Linked DNA regions of Homo sapiens: region 1 is linked to region 2. The links come from fine-mapping of genetic effects on gene expression. A gene starts in region 2. The other region holds a variant in brackets. All regions are shown on one strand. Distances are between the middles of the regions. Region 1 overlaps TRPM3 (transient receptor potential cation channel subfamily M member 3). Region 2 holds the start of TRPM3 (transient receptor potential cation channel subfamily M member 3).

Region 1 (8,758 bases), 230 kb before region 2:
CCAAGCCAGTTTCGAACTCCTGACCTCAGGTGATCCACCTGCCTTGGCCACCCAAAGCGCTAGGATTACAGGTGTGAACCACCGTGCCCGGAGAGTCAACACTTATAACTGACAAATATAACTGCAATTGACAGGAAATAAAATCAAAACATATGATGAGTCAAAAGGAAGGACATTCTTCTACATTAAAATCTGTAATAGCATCTGCCTAGAGTTTACCAATATAAACAACCTAACTCCTACATCACTTGGATCTCTGCACACAGGTTACCTGTGGCTAGTGGATTGGGCTACTGCTTAGAAAGAAAGAGGGCTAAGGATGTGAGTTCCAGCCATCTAGTTTAGGTTGTTTCAGGTTTTATTAAGCTCAAATTGTGTCCTGTCAACATGTAGTCTCCTTCCTAACTCCAATGTTGAAGTCACAGAAAGAAAATTAAATAATATTTACTGAAGTTCTGGATATATCTTCAGTGCTAATTGTTCACTGACAAAATGATTCCTCACTATGTCATTACTCATCTAAAGTGTTAATCAAACTTAGAAATAATATACAGAATAGAAATCTAAAAATAATTTCTCCATTTTAAGAGCTTATTGGAAAGAACATGTGATACAAATTTAATAAGTAAAATTTTATGCTATGATATTTATGCCAGCATGATGCCTTTTTATGTAGTACTTCAGGAGAGTTTTCCTGAATATCTGGTATGATAAGAAGAGGCTTCTGGCAGGCAACCATATGTTTCTTATTCCAGTAGTTATGATTCTTCTTATTTATGTTACAGTTGAAGGAATGAGGCAGCCCATACAAATCTATTTTCTTAGTATCTGGGTATCTTGTGGGTTTCAACATCTGTTTGTCAATTACCATCTCATTTCTTTACCACCAGAGAATGGTTTGCCCCTTTACCTCTATGTACATAAATACACACTCTCATAAGCACAAAGACTTTAATTTGGGCAGAAGCAGAGATACAGTCTATAAAGTACTATGTATCTTTCCCATAACCATCATATGATGAAAAATAATGTCAACAACTGTGCAACTGCAGTATGACAAGTGTGAATGCCCTAATTGGTCAACTGGACCAGAATGATGAGTTGTTGTTTTTATTTTAAACCAATGTCACTTCTAATCTATTACAATGGTAATGAACAGTCAAGCAGCCTATTTCCCACGGATATCTTCAAAGCTCTACAGATTGCCATTTGAACCATTCTTTAATTGCCTCTGGCACAGATTGTAGCATGCTCCATAGAACCAAGAAGGCGTATTAACTAGATTTGGCTATCCCCAAGTCACTATAATGATGAGGCTTTATATGACTAAAGGAGGTTTTAGCTTCAGTCTTTACTATGAACCATTATAACCACCCAGCACATAGTAGGTACCTGAAAAAAGTGAATTTTTATGGCAATATAGTCACATTTTAATTTCTTGTTGGATTAATGGGAGTTAGGAGTATTTTTTGCTCTTGCTTTTATTTTGGGGTGTGTGTGTGTGTGTGTGTGTGTGTGTGTGTGTGTGTGTTCCAATCCTAGAAGTAAAATTTTCTGGATAATTAAGATAAAGTTAGAAATTACCAGATATGTATTCTCCAAGCCTTTTCTCAGAAAAGTTTACTATTTTTTATTAGAAGGGTTTTACTCTTGAATTTAGTTTGCCAGGTACAGGTTTTGTTTTAAACTTTTGCCTATTGTCTTACATCCATTGTTAATGCATGTTGCATACCATTTGTAAAAATTTCAGATTGAAAGAATGGTTGTATCATATCCTCTTCCTGAGCCAGTGATAGTTCACTAGATCTGCCTGTCTACTTTGGCTCAGCAGAGGTGCCTACTTGACTCCTGGGCCTAGGATGAGAAGAGGAAGGAGATGACATGTGGTTCCCTTCAAGCCGACTTTTGCCTAAGTTAAGGGGTGGTCATGTTTTTAGAATGGGAAGGAGGCTGATTCAACAACATTTCTGATCAAACCTGGAAGATTAGACATATGCATTTATCTCGATTTCTCTCAAGTATTCTTCTAAAATGAGAGGAAAGTTGTAACAACAAAAAGGCATGACCTACAAGGACACCAGTATGGAGAAGGAAGTGGGAATACATAACAGATGTCAACAAAATTTTTGGAAATTTCAACATGAATGGATGGGTAGTAATTAACATTGCCAACTAGAGAATGTTCAAAGCTCGGGAACTGGAAGGGGTGGCACAGCCAGCAAGAAACAACCTGATTCACCCCACTGAAACTCAGATAGGCCTAGGAATAAAGGCACCAGGTATTTTTAAAGGCTAGGAGATGGGTGGAATAGCAAGGTCAAGCCCATATGGGACAAATGGTTGAAAGTCTTTAAAAGAACCAGCCAAACTTCTGCCTCCTCTCCACATAGCCAGGAAACTGCTGCTCTCCCACCAAGGGGAAGACCAGAAGTTGATTCTTTTGAGAAGTTGAACCTTAGACTAGATGTACGGCTGAAAGTATGAGGCACCAGGATGAAAGCAAAAATATGAGTGAAAGTTTACACATTGATGGGCGAGGTCCCCGCCAACCCCACCTGTTTTCTTACCTCTGTCGGCCACTAGACCATGGTCAGTTTGGCTCTATGTCCTCCTCCAACCCCCTGACCATCTGTACCCCACCCAACACACACCTTCCAGCAGGATAGTGGTGGACTTTTCTTTGGAAATATTGAAGAGCACCAAACAGACCTCATGATCTTGACTTTCAGGAATCTCCTAAGAAAATACTGGGTATCCATAGAAAAGACCACTGGTCAATAAATCCCACCTAAGGACAAAGAATTCCCAATCTGCATTTTAATGCCTTACTCTGAGGTATAAGAGCAAGCTTATACTTAGGTTTAAGTAATAGAAAAGGCTTAAGTAATAGCCAAGGGTCATCAGGAATTAAGGAAAGCCTCTACCATGAAAGACAGGAACCATTAAAATGAAACAATAAAGGAAACAGTACAGAAAAGTATAGTAAAAAGTGTATATATGGCATATACTTAGTATATACAGTATATATAGTAAACAACATAAAATTAGTATATATGTAGTATATATGCTATATACTATATATAACATACTATAAAATATAAATATTTATAGCATATTATATATTTATATTTATATATTCTATATAGCATATATAAATATATACACACTATACATTAGTATATATAATATACAAATATAGTGTACTATATACTATATAGTATATATATAGTCAATAGTACAAAATATATACAATAATATAATCAGTAGCCTCAGAGAACTAAAGAAGACCCAAGCATGGAAGAAGAGAGACTATAACACAGGACATTTTTAAAACAAGAAGAGAGTGTTAGAAAGTTAAGAGATATAACAAGAAAAACAAAAACCTAAATAGAAGATAAAGGTGAGGAAGCAAACGTGAGGCTATCTCTTACAAAACAGAACAAAGAGAAAACAGGAGCAAAAAATATATAAGTTAGAGACTCAGTAATAAAGGTTTCCAGCAAAAGAGAACAGAGAACACCAAAAGAGAAAATTATCAAAAAAATTGATATAAGAAAAACTTCCAGAATTGCAGAACATAAATTTCCAAATTGAAGGGGTCACTGTGAGTGGCCAGTGGAGTAGATGAAGATAGACCTCCACCAAAGAATAACGCTGTAGAATTTTTAAAGACCAAGACAAAGATAAGATTCTACAGGCTTCCAGACAGAAGAAAACATATTTCGTAAATAAGATCAAGATTCAAGGAAATCTAGAATGCAATGGGGATATCTTGAAATTATGAGGAAAAGATTTTTAATCAAGGGTGAGAATAAAATAAATAAATGTTAGTTCCTAAAATAGTTCAAAATTTAACTCCACATGCTGCAACATTTCATGGGATGCTATTGGAAAATATGCTCCGTAAACAGGAAAAAACATGGTATCTAAAAACAGGGAACCAAGCACAGGACAGAGGCAGAGGGAATTCATAAAAGGATAGAAAAGCAAAGTGCCAGATGATAAGACAGCTCTGCAGCAGAGCTGGGAACAGCCACTCAAGGCTGGAGTGTATGCATGAAAACAACAACAAACACAAACACAACTAACCTAAAGAATTGTTCAGCAATGGGACACAGGAAGGGGAACATCACACTCCGGGGCCTGTCGTGGGGTGGGGAGAGGGGGGAGGGATAACATCAGGAGATATACCTAATGTCAATGACGAGTTAATGGGTGCAGCACACCAACATGGTACATGTATACATATGTAACAAACCTGCACGTTGTGCACATGTACCCTAGAACTTAAAGTATAATAAAAAATTAGAATTGTTCAGAAAAGGAGATTGAATAATTTTATATACAGTGAAGAAAATTTGCATAGTCATAGAAAATAAAAACACTGAATACTGAAAAATTGAAAAAAATAATTGTTAACTGTATGGAGAGTGAGGGAAAAGATGAAGTATATGCTGGGAAAAGGGAATAAAATAGCTAAATCCCATTTTTCAAAGTAAAAATATCAAACATGCAAAATGAAAAAAGCAGAATTATAAGCATGCTGCTTATAAACATAGAGTTAAATGCCAGAAAAAGATGCTTTTAGAGCTGAAAGCAGATGTGAAAGCAGATATGTGGGGTGAGAAGTGTCAGGCAAGGGACCCTGTTTTTTGTGTGAAAGTCCTCGTAGCACTATTTGACTTTTTAAGCTCTATCATAAAACTATGTAATAAAAATGAACAGCAATAGCAAAATTTGGAAAAACAAAAACTTAAATGGAAGTACTGGAAGATAAAGGTTTCAAATGAATGAAATTGTATCCTTAGTTATCTCTCCAGCTCCTCTTGGGTTGTTGTATAAAATGAACATGTATTATGTACCATGAGCCACTGTTAGGAGGTTTCTTATGCATTATCTGATTTAATCCTAATGACAACTCTGTAAATTGTCATTTTTGTCCCCACATCCCAGATAAGAAAACTGAGGCTCATTGTTCTGAAGATTTGCTGAAGACCTCAGGGCTGGCAAAGTCAGACCCAAACTTAAGCCTTTCTCACCTTGTGCCTTAGGCGCTTACCATATCCCAGAGTTTCATTTTATTATATAAGAAAGTTTA[C/T]TTCAAAACTTACGGACTACCAAGCTTCTCCCAGCCTACAGATCCACAGCAGGGTGAATACCTGGATAATAACTAGAATTCCGTGGTTGGAGCAGGAGGGATTTACGAGGAAAAAAAGGGAAAAAGGAAAGAGATACTGAGAGGACTTTTAATTCTCAGAATGAATCGCCCATGTTATTTTAACATTTTGTGCCTTAACGTTTTGGAAGACTATATAGAGAAATTAATTATTCATGGAGTAAGATAATTTACTTCTTTTAGCCACAAGTGAATTATACAGTACCAAAAGTGAAATGAGTTAATATGTAATATCATTCAGAAAAAGAGGCCTTTATGAGAGTCTGAACATAAAAAAAGGCATCTGTAAATTCGTAGAAATACCTAGAAATAGGGTGATTACTCTAGATCAGCACTTCTTTGCCTTTAAATAAATGAAGTCAGATCCTGAATTTTGAGATTACAAACAATATCAAAATTATTTTCACAGCTGTGCAACATTTATTATCTTGAAAGAATAATGTGGTTTAACATAATTTAATTTTAATTATTTTAATATTTTATACTTTTGGAGAGAAAAAAGTCTCAAGTCAATACATTGCTACTTCTTTAGGTTCAAGTTTCAAATTTACCCGTTTGACCTCAAAAAAAAAAAAAAAAACTAGCCAATCTGCAAGCATTTATGAGAATCTATCACATTCATGGATGGTTAAGACCAGTTCTAAATAAATATATTTCTGCATGTAGCTCAAGAGTTTTCAATTAAAGAGGCTATTCTAATTCTCAATCAATACTTTAATGTATGTGGTTAAAATGTAAGTGGTTAAAATCAGTAATTATTATTACAACCATAGTATGTGGTGAAATAGAAAATCAGTTGAACAACAAAATAATATTACAGGTTTCTTGTTTTGATTGTTACCTTCACATATCTAGGAAGGTCACTTAATTTCTACATGACCGGCTATATCCACAAATAAAATTGAGAAAATACCATCTACTCTACTTTACAAGGTTGTTAATATGCTGCAACATGAGATAGCATTTTAAGCAAGCACAAAGCACTATCTATCTACAATATATTCTGAAAAAGAGGCAATGTTGATGATATATTTCCCCAAAGCAGAGTCTCCTGTGCTGGACTGCTATTATTAATATTATATGTAGGGGAAGACATTTTCTGCGACACCAATAATGCTTTTTCTAATGAAACTATTCCCCACAGGTCCTCCAGATTGGAAGGGCTGCATAACCATGCTAGGGAGGTTTGCTGGGTGAAATCACATGGACCATGCCAGGGGCTTGGGTTAGAGAACTGCCTTTGTCATAAGAAAACTTGGGTAATTCACTTAAATGCTCTTAGCCTTAGTTTTCTTGTGCATAGAAAGGAAGCCCTAAGATGCTTTATAGGGCTCTCATTAGGTTCAAGTGAATAAAGAATATGAATGGCTAGAGTGTAAGAAGCTCTTTATAAATGATAAAACACTATATAAATATGTTATGATGATGCTACTACTAATAGAAATATCAGTATAACATAAATATCCAATTGTCCCATGGTGACTACGAATGGTTTATGGAATACTACATATATTTCTAGTAGTAATTTTGATGACTTTGGGATTGAAAGTGTACCTCCTAGATCTGGAAAAATTAGGGCCCTATACTCCTATCTACTGAAAAGGGAAAACTGTAATTATGGAACCACATTACTGTGGAAGCAAAGCGCCCTCCTCCTGAAATCCAACACGTGGCGAGATTAAAGGACTAATGGTAATTAAACATTGACACAGAGTGAATAAGATTAATATTAGAAAAGGATTACATCAGAAAAGATTTACATCAAAGGATTCTTTCTCTTTTCTCCCATAGAAGGCCTAAGACACAAAAGAAGTCTTATGCAAAACATTCTAAGCCTCTCAGTTATTTTAAAAGAAGCTGAAAAAAATGATGAGGTAAGCACAAATTTCTTCTACTGGAAAATGCCAAAAGTTATAATATGCTTAAGGATTTACTCCACATATGGGAAATAGCAATATATTGGAGGACAAAATGGGTCACGGATGTCCAGGAACTTGGAAAAATGTTTGGAACATTGTTGGAGGAAAGCATATATAATAGAATGAAAAGGTGCCCATAAGCCATCCCACCAAATTTTAATACCATCACGTGCTCCTTGTTGAGCTACAAAGATGCAAGGATTTTGTTTGTTTGTTTGGTGTTAGATACAAATGCAGTGAATATGTGTCTATGAAATGAACATATAGAATAACATTATATGAACAAACAAAAAGGAATATCTTCAGTGGGGTTGCCCAGGACACTACCAGCTAGGAGCATAGTCAGGATTAGGACCTGGCAGAGGTCTGCTCTAGCCTATGAGGTCAGTGGTTGCCTGGGCCCAAGGGACCATCGGGCATTACTTGGGTTTTCTGGGACTGTACCACACTGGTTTGCTACATTCAGCATTTGTATCTCATGGATACAAATGCATTTCTTTAAATATCAAGATCCATGCTGTTGGTACAAAGGCCAGGGATATTTCTATTAAACACATGTTTCTTGAGCACCTACCATGTACCAGGCACTGCTTTAGGAACTTGGGAGTACAGTATTGACTAGGAGAGCATTGAACTTTAGGATAAAATACAAGATTAGTTGCAGTTGAGAATTTTCTAAGCAAAAGTGAATGCAAGATTTGGCTTCTCCAGGACTCAGATCTACATCTATTTGGGCTGTCATACAGAATTGCCATAATATTACCAAAATATATATAGCACTCAACAGTTTGCTACGTAAAGTTTAGTAGTATCATAACAACATCACTTAGTTATACAATATACCTTCTTGAGGATCTGTGTCTTCAAGAAGCTTACATTTTAGTGTCACGCTGATTCTAACAGGACCTATTGCGGTGCTGAAGCCCTACTGCTAAGATTGTGAATAGAAAATGGGAAAAAAGTTTTGCCGTCAGACAACTTTGGCTTGAATGCTGACTGTATTGAGTGCTAGTGCCATGGCTTGGGAAGATACCTTATCTTTTAAGAGCTTGTATTTCTTCATCAGCCCAAAGATGCTAATAGTATCTATCGTCATCAAATGTTATATTGTACATGAAGGCACTTTGCAAAATGCAAAGTGCTACATAAATGTTAGTGCTATTATGACGATTCTGTATGCCAGTCCAGATAGATATGGATCCAGGTTCTGAAAACAGGCAGCGCTGCATTTTCTTTTCTTTACACAATTCTCAAATATACACAGCTTTGTATTTTATTCTTATGTTTAATGATTACTAACTTTTAACAATGTTCTTAAAATTCTTAATATTTTCTACAACTGGGTAGGACCTCCTGGACCATTCTGAATAGGCACATCTCTGGAAGATAGCTTACACTTTGCTGAAATCTAAAGGGACACAATAATTGTGCACACATCTGAAATAAAACTACGTAACATCTGGATTGAATCCCTAATTTTTCTTTTCCTTCACTTCTGATATTTTGATTAGAATTGTCTAATACAATGAACCAATCAATTACAGATAACCTATGATAACTCCCATATTTTATGAAAAGATAAATGGACTATAGAAAATTCCCAGTATTTATGAGCAAATTCCCAGTATTATGAGCAAAGAGAATTCTTTTATACAATTACCTA
Region 2 (8,758 bases):
AGGACCCAGTGTCCAGGCTGACTTTTCCAGAATATAATTTCTTTATTCTATTTCTGACATTGCTTAAAGTGAGCAAACTCATATGATTTCTCAATATAAAAATTTGAAAGTCTTAAAAATGATACTAATCATTTGGTCTTCATTAACACACTGACTTAAATATCTTTCCAAAATCTGTCACAAATACAGTGTCCCCTTCTCCCAATGCAACCCATTTTTCAGAAGCCTTCCCTTCAGTAAGTTCGCCAAGACTTCAATACACAGAAAGCTCTCTGCCCTAAAAATAATCTTCGAATTCAACATGTTACCAAAATAAAATCTTCCAAATAAAACAATGGCAAAGATAGACCTGATAATGAATATGAAATATGCTAAGAACATTCTGTCACTGAAATAAACTTGACTTTTTTTGTGATTAATAGTAAGATGCAATCTTGAAACACATAAGAATAAAGCAAACGACAACAGAAGAGAAATGATGTAGAAAGGGTCCCATTTGAAATTTACCCATTTGAAAACAGGCTCTGTCTTTTGGCTATCATCATTGTGTGCCTGTCCAGAAATTCATTTCCAAGTTTTATTTCCAAATGCAACCCCAAATTCAAAATGTGAGTGTGTTGGCATGTTCAAAAATTGCTCTGAGATGGACAAAACAACAAATGAGATGCTTTCAGGAGGAATAATAAGTACATTCCAACACTCATTGGGTTTAATTCATACTTCAGATATCGGCCTTCCCCTTCTAATTCTTTTGTATCCTGTTTCTATTAGGAAATGGAAAATAAGGAAATAGGATTATGAAGCCATTTCTAAATATTAACGTGATACCAAAGGAAGTTAGCAAAGATACACACATTTTCAAGGAAAAGGATAGAAAGGGAAATTGGCTTGAGTCCAGTCTGTCAGAAATGGTGACTGATCAGAGTTTAGCTAAATCTAATCAAGCCATCAGGACCTACACTGCATTTACTGACAGGTAGGGGCACTGAGAGAGGGCAGGTCATATTAGAACAATGCTTGGAAGAGGAATAAGCACTACCTGTTGAATAGGAGAATTGGCTTTGTTACCTTAAGATTTCAATAATCTACTGGATTCCTAGAGAATCCATTCATCAAATTAACATAGTGGTGGTAGTATGGAGGGAGGTGGAACAAGAGAGAGAAGGGGGAGGAAGGGAGGGAGGAGAAAGAAAGGAAAGGACATAAGAAATACTGTTATTAAATATTTCATTTCTAGATTAAGCCAGGAAGAGCATTTACCAAAACATGCAAATTATTATTCATGAACTTACATTTTACTCAAAAGATAAAATGGCAAGAATACATAGGAACTAGCAAAGCAAACACAGGAATCCATAGGAGAAACATACAACAATCCATAGGAAAAAAATACATAGCATTCACAGCCAGAGAGTGGACAATACAATTGCTCATATACCAAAGCAGCTTTGCTTTCTTTCTAAGTATTGCTGAAAGAACTTGGTATGACTTTATTTTTTTAAGAGTTTGAAATGTGCTCAATATCTGAAGTCTCAGAAGATAGCTATGATCTTTCAAAAATACAGATGTCATTTGGGAAAAAAGTTCTCCAGTAAGGTTCCATCCTGTCTTTTAGATATTGAAAAAATGGGAAGGACACACAGTAATGCACTTTATTCAATAAATTATTACAAAGCATCACTTTAATAAAGGATGGTAAGATTGAGCTGTATGCCAATGAAAGTATGGCTGTAGCATTAACAATGTCTCCTGAAAGTATGGACAGCACTTTCAGTTAAAAAAGATGACAGAACTCACTCTCCTAAAAAGACAGAGCTTCTTCTAAAAGAAGTACCTCAGGTAGGTACTTCTCTGCTGGTTTTGTGACTAGTAAATGAATAACATTCTCCATTTAAAAAAAAACTAGCATATTAATTAATCATATATGGAGAGTGATAGTCACCTATCTGTCAAGAAGAGTTAAAAAGCATTATTTTGGGTTAAAGCTGATACATGACTTTAACTGAAAAAATGTTTCTCATTGCACTTCGAATTACTGGAGTTGAATTCTTTCAGGGAGACTTAGATATGCCCATTCTTTGCCCCTGACTCTTGATTCACTAGTGATTCTGGAGAAAATGTACACCAATTTGTTAATTCTCTGGCCTCATTCTTTTTCTTGCCCTATCACACATGTTGTTACAACACAGCAAAAACACACATATCCAAGGAAAAGTCTCTTCTACTACCCATACCCAAACCTGCCTTTCCTCCTAAATAGTCCCTAGGGAAGCAAGCCATCGCCATGACAACCATATGATGGGAGTTTGAACAGCACTTGGGGCAGCCTTTGTTGAAAGTTAATACCAGTTGGTGTTTAACAAGAAAAGGAAAACTCAGGCAAGGGGTAATACTCTGTTGTGAGGCACCACTTAGCTGTATGGAACTAACTGTCCCCATCAAATCTTACCTAACCAGAACACATCCTCAGAACAAAATTCTCCAAGTGTAACGTATTCAGGGCTAATTCATTAATTCTCCATTGTAGCCCACTGGACTCAATGCTCTGTGGTCACTAAATCAAAAGAGCATACATACTCAGGAAAAGAGAATTAAGAACTTTGCCTTTTTTAACTTCGAATGGATATAGAACATCAGAGATATTTATTTTTCCCTATTAAGTATTACCACCTTCTATTTACTGGGCAAAAATGCTTGTTTCCTGCACCTTTAAATCTAATTTGTGTTTTCCCCCCTACAAGAAAGATCATGAAGGTGGATTAGTACAGAGTTGTATGGACTTTTTCAGTATCTTTAATGCATTTGCTTCTGGAAAGAGAAGCGCTGCAGACACACGGTGGCAATTCCTGCTCAGGTGTAGTGCCATTCTTTTGTGTGACTCACAGCTAGAGAGAGAGCTGACATTCAATATATGTTTAACAATACTTTCCCACTACTGATTCCACTCAGGAGACTCACATTTTTATGCCTTTTCTAAAAACAAGGACACAAAAAAAGTCACTGTCTGAGGAGGCTCATTCTTTGTTCATCTTCACCTGACTGGCCACCTAACTACACAAAGCTTTTAAACTAATGAGGAGAATCCTTTGTTCTCTCTGGTTCCATTTAAAGGGAAAGTGGGTCGAAGGGCTTCCCCAGGGAGAGAGAAAGAAAAGCCCAGGAGCCAAACACAAGGGAGTAAGAGATTTCACTCCCACTACTATTCCCACCCTCCCAAAGAAGTTAATTAATTCTGTTTTAGGAATGGTTAAAAGGGGTGGGGGAGCACCAGGTAGCCCATTCTCTGAGACCAAAATCTCCTTCTCGAGTGTGGTTCGCACCAGCCTCTTGTCTCTGACACCACGGGGTGTGGGTGGGGGGCGTGGGGGGAGGGCAGGAGTACTGAGAACCTCTCTCCAGCCACGGACCACAGAGCCAGTACTGCATGCATTTAGGCTCCCCCAAAGGTGCGTCCCAGCCCAAGTCCCCAAGTTGGGTATTTAAATCTAAAAAGCACAATTAGCGCCATTCAAAGCTGCAAGTTACAGTACCTTCAGAAGTCTGACAGATGGAAGAAAGGCTGCGTGGCACAGCTTCCGGATGGTCCAGTTTAGGGGTCGAGGAGCATCAGCCTGATTCATGACCCCTTCCAAATTCCACCAGGAAAACAAGAAACTGAAAACCTGAGCAATGCCTAGAAAATAAACGGTCCCCCACGGCTCTGGCATCCCATGGTCATCTCCACACCTGCAAATTCCATTAGGGCAGAGGCTTCCTGGAACTTGGAAGACTAGTCAAGTAGCCTTGCCTGAGCCCCTGAACCTTCTTAAAACAGCCACCTCCCCTCTCTCTGCAGCCGTGCTCATGCATACCAAATGTGGCTGAATGGAGGCACACTGCCTGCTGCTTCGGGGAGGGGATGCACGATTTTGAAGAAGAGGGACAGCCTGCACAAAACAGCCTGTGGTCGGAGTCAAAGCAGCCTGCTCCAGAATGCGCGCTCCCTCTCCCGCTCTCCTCCCAGTAAACGCAGGTCAGGCGTTGGGGGGGAACCGGGGCCATTGCTTTGCTAGCTTGGTTTGGGGGGGAGCCAGGAGGATCGCAAAAGGGAACAAAAATGAAGCCAGAACGGGAAACTTGCACTTTCTTGCACAAAGCATCTTTGAGGGACTGAGAACTGGTACGGGGGGAGGGGTGAGGACACAGGGAGAGAAGGGGTGCCTCCGAATGATGAGATAAATGCTTCCCTTTTGATTTATGTGACATAATAAAGTGAGGCTATCATCAAATACATCTATAGTAAAAGAGATCTGTGTCGTGTTCTGAGGTTTTTATTAACCGTGATTGACAGTCTTCATCCTGATAATCGGTTGCATAGATGACAGACACTGAGACAGAAGCAAACTCAAACACACTGGGTTGTTCCTTTCATACAAAGCAGTTTAAACTCATGGGCATTTGGCTCACCTTTTAGAGATGGCAGTTTTTAAATGGGGGTTATCTCCTGGAAAGCCACTTGATACCGCTTCTCTGCAACACAAGTTTAACCCATAAAGTGCCACATGGGATGCTGTCTATAAAGAATGGATTTTCCTCAAGTGGGGTGTCCACCCCCATCATTTTCTAAGGAGGCTGTATGAAATAGTTGCTGAGTTGGAATGTATAGTCTTTAGGACTCCTGTGGTGAGAGAGAGAATTAAAGGACAGTTTTTCAATTTGAAGGTAGAAATTGGATAATTTCACATAGTAAGTTGGGACGGTGAGATGAGAAGGGAGTTCCTGACACAACCCCCCTTCGGCTCCCATGTACCCCCAGGCATCGGACCTCAGTGGGAGCAGTTGACCTGACAACTCCTATGGGGAGAATCCCCACATCCTTGGAGCATCGCCATCTTATTTATTTTTTCCTCTGTGACCATGCTGATTTTCCATTTCTAATTAACTTGAAGAGATTGGTAAATCCCAGCTCCATGACTATTATGCAGTCAGAGCTGAACTGGGAGTGGTGCAAGCAGATGTGATACACTGCTGTAATTCAGAACCGGGACAACACAGGCCCACCCCAGCATGAAATCAATACCTGACACACTGCGCTACAACACCATTTCACTCACAATGGTCTTGTGTCAAAAATTTAAGAAAGATATTGCAGAAAACTAGTCCACGGGTGGAAGGCAGACCATTGACCTACCTCGTATAGTAAAATTTATGTCTCTGATTATCTACCAAACAATATCACTTTAATAGATCTCATACACAGCTGATTCATTTTCTGTTACTATTCTATTTCCACAAAGGATTGAAGGCAGTATTAAAATAATAACGGCTCACATGTATCACCTAGCACAATGCATTGCATAGGTTTATGCCCATGTCAACCTTATGGAGTAGGTGTTATGGTCATTTTCTTATCTCACAGATTAAGCAAGTGAGGTCCAGAGAAATTAGTAACAAGTCTAACATACTAGTATAACTGGAATCTGGATTGAAACCAGTCTACTAGGCTGTAAAGACAAGCTTTCTCTTGTCTCCTATTTCTTTCAAAAGGGACTTCAGGAATAAAACCACTGCCTCTGTTTTTTGGTAATTTAATCTTACATAAGAGTTAAAGACTTTAAAGAAGAAACGCTCAGCATTTCTTTCAGATTATTACTTTGGTCTGATGTTGATGTATTAGTTAACAGCATGAATTCTGGAATCAAGCTGCATGGTTCAAATTCCAATTTTGAAGCTAGTCTTGGGAGATTTACGTACCTTCTTTGTGTCTTGGAGTCCTTATCCGTACAATGGAGATTAAAATAAACCCTTATGCCTATGGTTGTTGTGAGGACTAAATAAGCTAATATTGGCAAAGCACTTAGAACAGTGCCTGGCATATACTAAATACCTGTACCATGATCCATCTTCTGGGTAGCATGTGCTGATTCTGAGCTGGAAGCCCACTGACAATTTTCATTAAGCATGCATACATATGGTAGTAGGTAATGAAGTCAAGCAAGACAAATTAAAACTGAATGCTTCTTGTGAGTTACTATGAGTTTAATAAATGGGGTAAAGAGGAAGGTGGGAGACTGCAAGGGCAGCGTGGTTTTCCTCATGCAGTGTGGTATTCATCCAGTTGCGAGATGCTGCCTTTAGTGGGGAAGGCTCCAGCCTTTCTAAGCTTTTAAATGAACGCCCTTAAGTGGTTCTGTTGAGGTGGTGAGATCTCTGCTCCATGAAAATGCTGAAAAACTGCAATTGCCTACCCCCTGCCCTGCAGTATTTCAAAATGCTAAGGACCCCACAAAAATGACAGCATCATTCTGAAAACACATGGCCTTTGATCCTATCCCCTTTAATTTTACTGAATAACTTTGGTCAAAGAGAACTGTTAGAAACTATGCAGAGTGAGGAAGTAGGAGGATTCACAGCCCTCTCTAATGGCAATTAGAGGAGAAAAGCACAAAACCTTCAGGGAATTGATTTGGAGATTACACTGCAAAAGAGGTAAAAGATCAAAGAAGGATGACAGTGCATGAGAGGCAGTTTTTCTTCCATCACTGGGGACGCTTTGTGCCAGAATTGTTTGCTATCAAAACATCTAAAGAAGGGTTTTCAAGACCCTTCTCTCTACTTTCAAGAAATTATATTTTCACATAGAAGATGCCTTCCCCAGTTTTAGAGAGAGGTCTAATGAGAAAAAAAAAAAAAAGCAGAGAGGAGCAAGCCCAGCCCCAGATATTAGCATCTCACAAATTCAAAGTGCTTACTTATAAATCTTATGAATGTAGATGTCTACATATCTGCAGAACAAATTCTAGCAGGCTTAAAACTCTGAAATAATCATACTAGCTTTCAGTATCCTAAAAAATAGCAAGCAGGGCATATCAGATTTCTGTATTCCAAAGCCTGCCTTTGAGCCAACTCTAATTCTCTCCCGTGCTACAGAAAAGCCCACTTTCCACTGATTATCTTCCCTTTTTATTTTCTGTGTAAATGATACGAAACCAAAGAATCATGATGAAATTTGAGCTCATTCTCAATACTGACAAGGCGGCCATTGTATAGCCCTTCTGAATTCTTTCTTTTGAAGACCACGTTCCTTCTCTTCAAAAGTCATAGCACCCTCAATATAGTATTGTACCACTTTGCACCCTGTCTTCTTTATATCTTTTGGATGTAAAAGGAGCTGACCCATGAAAACCTAAGAAAACAAAAAGGAAATGACACAGTGACCAGGTAGTACAGAGAACTCAAAAGCCTCCCTCTGAAATGTGTTTTCTGCAAACAACACTAAAATAACAGTGTTGCAATGTAATTTTTCAGAGTTTATTATTACAACATTAAAATTCATAGGTATCTGGACATCAATTGTACATATATTTTCAGGCTCTAATATATGGATGTAGTGCACCTAGTGCAGAAGGATGATATTTAAGCAACCAGGGGAAAAACCAGGAACAAGCCCAGTGGTGAGCCTTTGTAGACACTTTCGTTTGCTTCAGTGTTTTGTAGTCTTAATATTAACGTCTTGCTTGCTTAATGATTGGCCTCTTTTATTAATTTTGTTGTGCTTTGAATTTTCTTTTTTAAATATTTTATTTTACTTTAAGTTCCAGTATACACGTGCAGGATGTGCAGGTTTGTTACACAGGTAAATGTGTGCCATGGTGGTTTTCTGCACTGTCAGCCCATCACCTAGGTATTAAGCCCCACATGCATTAGCTATTTATCCTAATGCTCTCCTCCTGCAACAGGCCCCCGTATGTGTTGTTACCCTCCCTGTGTCCATGTGTTCTCATTGTTTAGCTCCCACTTATAAATGGGAACATAACGGTGTTTGGTTCTCTGTTCCTGTGTCAGTTCGCTGAGGATAATGGTTTCCAGCTCCATCCATGTCACTGCAAAGGACATAATCTCATTCTTTTTATGGCTGCATAGTATTCCATGGTGTATATGTAGCACATTTTCTTTATCTAGTCCATCATTGATGTGCATTTGGGTTGATTCCATGTCTTTGCTATTGTGAGTAGTGCTGCAATGAACATAGGTGTACATTATCTTTAAAATAGAATGATTTATATTTTGGGGGATACATACCACTAATGGGATTGTGGTAGATTAAATACTTAAATGTAAAACCCAAAACTATAACAACCCTAGAAGATAATCTAGACAATACCATTTAGGACATAGGCACAGGCTAAGATTTCATGACGAACATGTCAAAAGCAATTGCAACAAAAGCAAAAATTGACAAACGGGATCTAATTAAACTAAAGAGCTTTTGCACAGCAAAAGAAACTATCATCAGAGTGAACAGACAACCTACAGAATGGGAGAAAATTTTTGCAATCTATCCATCTGACAGAGGTCTAATATCCAGAATCTACAAGGAACTTAAGCAAATTTATAAGAAAAAAGCAAACAACCCCATTAGAAAGGGGGCAAAGGACATGAACGGACACTTCTCAAAGGAAGACATTTATGCAGCCAACAAACATATGGAAAAAAGCTCAACATCACTGAATAGTGATAAATAGAAAAATGCAGATCAAAACCACAATGAGATACCATCTCACAACAGTCAGAATGACAATTATCAAAAAGTCAAGAAACAACAGATGCTGGCGAGGCTGTGGAGAAACAGGAACGCTTTTACACTGTTGGTGGGAATGTAAATTAGTTCAATCATTGTGGAAGACAATGTGGCGCTTCCTCAAAGACCGAGAACCACTATTTTTTTCAAAAAATCATTTGTCTCATGAACTTTATGGCAATTTATCATTTTTGTCAA

Evidence for each region. PIP is the estimated chance that this variant, and not a neighbour inherited with it, causes the effect.
Region 1: its variant is fine-mapped to the expression of TRPM3 in visceral fat (GTEx, PIP 0.97).

The regions. Positions count from the first base shown.
Region 1 is chr9:70,886,872-70,895,629 of GRCh38, forward strand. The region is part of intron 1 of TRPM3 (transient receptor potential cation channel subfamily M member 3); the gene reads right to left. Among named protein-coding and RNA genes, the nearest start is that of MIR204, 81 kb to the left of the region's middle. The variant C/T (reference allele first, on the strand shown) is at 5,099.
Region 2 is chr9:71,117,648-71,126,405 of GRCh38, forward strand. It overlaps TRPM3 (transient receptor potential cation channel subfamily M member 3), which reads right to left and starts at 3,974. Exons shown (of 26, transcript NM_001366145.2): 1 at 3,531-3,974. The coding sequence starts at 3,707. RefSeq lists an enhancer at 2,782-3,619.